Regions from separate parts of the Homo sapiens genome. Here region 1 is linked to region 2. A link means that fine-mapping ties the variant in region 2 to the expression of a gene that starts in the linked region. Tissue or cell type: whole blood. Region 2 holds a variant in brackets; the other region holds the start of a gene. All regions are shown on one strand. Distances are from middle to middle.

Region 1 (2,500 bases), 89 kb before region 2:
GCATCCAGGGAACCAAGTCTAGGCAGAGGCAACTGGCGCAAAGGACCTGAGGCAGAAGAGGGTTTGGTGTGTGAGGCGGGACTGAGGACTGTGGGCGAGGGAGACAGCTCTACCAGGACGCATGGTTCGGGGAGGACAGGCTGCAGGGTGCCTGGGCTGCAGGCACGGCACGGAGAGGAGTGATCCAGTGTTAACAATGTGGGTGGAGGATGACACCAGACCCCTGGCTTATTGCCCCACCAGGGGAATTCCCAGACACCAAACACCCCCTCCACTCCCACGCAGAATTGCGGGCTGAGGGTTCGGGTGAGCCAGGCTGCTCTGTCCCGGGGCCGGGCTCTGTTCATCCATCCGCAGATGGATACGGACACGTGCCTTTTTCTGAGGATGTGAATGGTTGGGAATGGCTGTGCCTGAGGATGTTGTTCCCACAGGATGGTGGGGGCGACTTCGGGCCTCGGTGGGTCCCGACCCCCCTCCTTCCCCCAGTTCCCTAATCAGGGTCTGAGCGACCGCGCGCACGGCCCCTGGGCCCCGCCGGTCTCCGAGCCCGTGGGCAGCGCCGGGAACTCGTGCCCCGGTGGCCGCAGCCGACCCTTAGGCAGGACTTCGTGGCGCCCCCGGCCCGAACAGACCCCCACGGGCAGCCTCGGCCGCCCCGTGCTCCCTTCATCTCAGGGCAAAAGCTCAAGTCAACCCTTCGGGACCGCGAGCCGGGCGGCCTCAGGAAGCGGGCGCCTGGGGACCCTCGGCCGGGCCGGGGGCGGCGAAGGTGGGGGCGCCTCGCGCGGCGGAACCCGCCGTCCCCATAGCCCGGAGCCCCGTCCGGAGTCGCCCCGCTGACCGGTGAGGAGGCCGGGCTCCCTCCTTCGATCTGCGGCGGTGGTCGGGTCGGCCGGGGCGCCCCTCGGACCCGGGCGCAGCGCGGAACCCGGCGGGGCGGGAGGGGCCGGAACCTAGCGCCAGGGACCCCGTTTCCTGTCGGCGGGACCCGAGCGCTGCACCGAGCGCAGCCGGACGCGGCCGACTGACCCGGTCGCTGTGGCAACGCGGCGGGACCTGGCCAGCGCTGCTGGCGGGCGTTAGGGTGAGGTGCGGGCGGGCGGCGTGGGAGGCGTGGGAGGCGTGGGGGGCGCCGCTCCGACCACTCTTCCTGTAGAAAACCCCAGCAGCTGCCGTCCTGTCGGACGCAGCGCTTTGGTGGGGACCTGGAGCGCGAGGTCGACCCTCAGAGCTCGGCCAGGCCCGGACCGGGGATCCCCTCGCGGAGGCTGCGGCGGGGCGGGGCGGGGGTTGCGGCCGCGTGGAGCGGGAGCGTTCCCTCGGTCTCCCGTGGGTGACCTGGGGCGGTGGGCGCTGCCGACCAGGGCCCCGCAGCCCCGGGAGAATTCCCCGGGTTCCGCCGCCGGCAAGGACGGCTCCGCGCCCAGGCAGCCTTACAGTGTCTGTGAGTTTAAAAAAAAAAAAAAAAAAAGAGAGGAAAAAAAAAGGCCGGAGGCGGTGGTTCGCGCCTGTAATCCAGCACTTTGGGAGGCAGAGGCGGGCAGATTGCTTGAGGCCCGGAGTTCGAGACCAGCCTGGCCAACATGGTGAAACCCCCTCTCTACTAAAAATACAAAAATTATTGGGCGTGGTGGTGCACGCCTGTAATCCCAGCTACTCCGGAGGCTGAAGCAGGAGAATCGCTTGAACCCGATGTTGTAACTGAGGGAGTTATAGAGAGAACGCCACACTCTGAGACTACTCAGGAGTCCTGTATTGCCAGCGACTGACAGACTGCTAGAGCTGCAAATTCCCTCGGCCCCGAAGAAGGGGCTAGATTTCTTTTGATACCTTGGTCTAAATAGAGGAGGGGAGGCTAGCTGAAGCGATTTTTTTACAGAAGCAGAATAGGCAAAAAGTTAAAAGATAAATGGTTACAGAAACAGTTACAGGAAAATAAACAGTTCCAGGTACAGGGGCTTAAATTATCACAAAGTGATAAACGCAGGGGCTTTGGGTACCATCAACCGAGCGCGTTCCCAGGAGCTGCTGGTACAGCTTGCTCCAGTTTCTTATCAGTATTTTATCAGTAAGCGCATTCCTGGATGTGCTTGGAGTCAGCTTGCCCCAGTTATGTCCTTAAGGGACGGGGACAAGGGGCTGCAAGCGAAGAAACCAAAATGGTGTCTGTCCGGCCCTCTCAGCTAAGAGAGAGTCAGTCAGGTTAAAACAAAGTAGGGTACCACACCGAGAGGCGCAGGTTGCGGAGAGCCAAGATCGCGCCATTGCACTCCAGTCTGGGAGACAAGAGCGAAACTCGGTCTCAAAAAAAAAAAAAATTATCTGTAACTTAGAAAAAGGATACAAAAGGAGCACAGATTTCCCGTGTGCCTTTTGCCCAGAGCCCCTAGAATGCTGACCTCTTAGAGAACCACAGTTCATTCAGCAACATGTAGACGCTGGCGTTCATGTTGGTATCATCCCATGATCTGGTCTCCAGTATTTATTCTTGCTTAGC
Region 2 (2,754 bases):
ATGGCTCTCCTCTGTGCTCAGGATTCTTAGGGGCACCGCCTCCTTGCATTTTTAATTCACCACAAAACATTTTGTCCAAATTTTCATCAACTCAATGGAAAGTTCTTCTGGAGACGTTCGTGTTCATTCGTTTGCTTGTTTCCTTTCTCCTTTTCTCTTGGAGCACTTTCGTTTCTTGGCTCCCCCCTCATTTTTTTTTTCTTTTTCTCTTTTTAGAGACAGTGTCCCATTCTGTCACCGAGGCTGGAGTGCAGTGCGGCAATCTCAGCTCACTGCAGCCTTGACCTCTTGGGCTCAAGTGATTCTCCCACCTCAGCCTCCCAAGTAGCTGGGACCACAGGGACACGCCACCACGCTCAGCTAAGATTGTTTTAGTTTTTTGTAGGTACAAGGTGTCGCTCTGTTGCCCAGGCTGGTCTCGAACTCCTGGGCTCAAGTGATCCTCCCACCTTACGCTCTCAAAGTGCTGGGATTACGGGCATGAGCCACCGTGCCTGGCCTCATCTTTAGAACAGGTAAATTTTTACTTGACTAGCTATTTGAAAAAGTTTGTATGGAAAATGAAGCCAGAACCATCTTCCAGCCCAGCAGAGTCGTGTCGTTGATTTTAGCTTTAAATACAAGTCTCCACCTATCAGGCTTTTAACAGCTGATACAGCTTCTCTCTTCCCTTTCCCCACAGATACTGCACTTTGCAGATAGGGCCTGTTCTGTTCCTGGTTCACTCTCCCTCCTCTCTTCCAGGAACGGAACAAGGTCAGGGAAGCACTTGCTGCCAGCCCATGTTCCTACTCCTGAAACAAGGAATTAGGTCCTACCCTCAGGGTGTACCCTTGCCTTAGAGAAATGCCCTCTGCTCTTTCTGGGGTCTGTAACGAGGCATCTGTATGTCTTTGACACAGCCCTTGCCGAGTTCCTGCAGCCTTTGGTAGCCCCCGCCACCACCACCAATTCTAGCTCTTAGTTTTAATGAAAATGAAGTTTGCATTTTTGCTTTTCATTATCTTTTTTTTTTTTTTTTTTTTTTTGCTTTTGGATGATTTACAAGGATAGTGGAGGAGTGCTAGCTTCATGATGCCTTCTTCAAGTCTGAAATCTGTCTTGTTTTCTGACCAATGCAGCCAAAGAAATGCATATTCCTCCAAGCGTTGCTTTGCTTTAACCATGTCTCATAAATCTCAACATCCTCATGTTTCCCTTGTCTTTCCCTTGTAGGACTTATAACTCAACTCATTTTGCTTTAACTTAAATGGAATTTTTCCTTAAGTTTCTAGATTTGTGGAATTTTATTTTTTTGTCTGTTACTGATTTCTAATATTTTTACATTCTGGTCAGAGAATTAAATTACTATGATGTTAACTCTTCTGAGAGGGAAATATTAGTTCTTAAACTACAATTATCAATCTATCTGTTTTTGTCAATTGTTGCTTTATGTGTTTTGAGGTTCGCTGTTAGGTGCATACATGTTTAGGTTTTTTGCCTTCTTGATCTTTTCCTCCCTTTACCAGTATGTAACATCCCTCATAACCCCTCATGTTGTATTTCACCAAAAAACCTATTTTGTCTGACATGAAAATTGCTATAGGCCGGGCGGTGGCTCACTCCTGTAATTGCAGCATTTGGGGAGGCTAAAGTGGGAGGATCGCTTGAACTCAGAGGTTCCACACCAGCCTGGACAATGTAGTGAGACATCATCTCAAAAAAAAAAAAAAAAAA[AG/G]GGCCGGGCACACTGGTTCATGCCTGTAATCCCAGCACTTTGGGAGACAGAGGCAGGAGGATCACTTGAGCCCAGGAGTTCTAGGCCGCAGTGAGCTGTGATTACACACTGCACTCCAGCCTGGGTGAGAGAGCAAGACCCTGTCTCTACAAAAAAAAAAAAAAAAAAAAAGTTATTAGGAGGGAAGGAGTGGTTAAACTGTGCAGTGGAACGCTACAGGTAGGTCCAGTTAGGTCAGGACAGAGAAGCAGCCCCTGCTTTTTTGCAAGGTGAAGGTCACTGGTGGTCTTAAGTGTGGTCTCAGGGGGGTAGTAGAATTTTCATTCAATCCTTCCCGGCTTGGGGAGAGGATGGGAGATGGGATGGACAACATATCCAAGAAACTTTGCTCTGAAAATCAGCAGTGAAAAGAGGCCGTATTTATGAAGATGTGGAGTCAAGAGGGGAGGCTCACAAGCTGTCATGTAAAGCCTGCCGGTAGGCAGTGGGAAATGGGATGACTCAGGAGAGAAGTCCTGGAGGAGGCAGGGGAAGGGGCTCGGTGCCCGTGTGCAGGGCTGGCCTTTAATAGGACAGAGGCAGAGGTGGGCACCGAAGCCAGAAGGTTGATTGCAGCCAGTGCTGTGCACTTGCCCAGCCTGCAAGCTGACAAGCAAGCCTGGCGGGAGACAGGAGGCTCCTGGGTCAGAGACCAAGGGCTCTGTCCACATAGCAGGCAGCTGGGCAGGCAGTGGCTGCAGGTGCAGTGGGTATGCATCTCAGCTGAGGAACCCAGGCCTGGGGACCGAGTCCTAGAGCGACCACAAGCACCTGCCCTCCGAGTCCTAGAGCAACCACGAGCACCTGCCCTCCGAGTCCTAGAGCGCCACAAGCACCTGCCCTGGGCCTGAGGGAGATGCTTGCTCCGACTTCTGAGCTGCTTGCTGGACAGACGCCCTTGCAAAGGGTCTGCAGCAGTGGCCAGGGCAGCCTCCACCGTGCGGGAGTGCACAGGCCCCAGGGAGGCTGTCCCTGGTCCCAGCAGCTGGCCTGGTGGT

What was found. PIP is the estimated chance that this variant, and not a neighbour inherited with it, causes the effect.
Region 1: it holds the start of CCDC57, and the variant in region 2 is fine-mapped to the expression of CCDC57 in whole blood (INTERVAL, PIP above 0.99).

Annotation. Positions count from the first base shown.
Region 1 is chr17:82,211,372-82,213,871 of GRCh38, reverse strand. CCDC57 (coiled-coil domain containing 57) reads left to right here and starts at 1,030. Exons shown (of 19, transcript NM_001394669.1): 1 at 1,030-1,087. RefSeq lists an enhancer at 1-619 and a silencer at 570-1,489.
Region 2 is chr17:82,122,257-82,125,010 of GRCh38, reverse strand. The region is part of intron 18 of CCDC57 (coiled-coil domain containing 57); the gene reads left to right. Among named protein-coding and RNA genes, the nearest start is that of FASN, 25 kb to the right of the region's middle. The variant AG/G (reference allele first, on the strand shown) is at 1,717.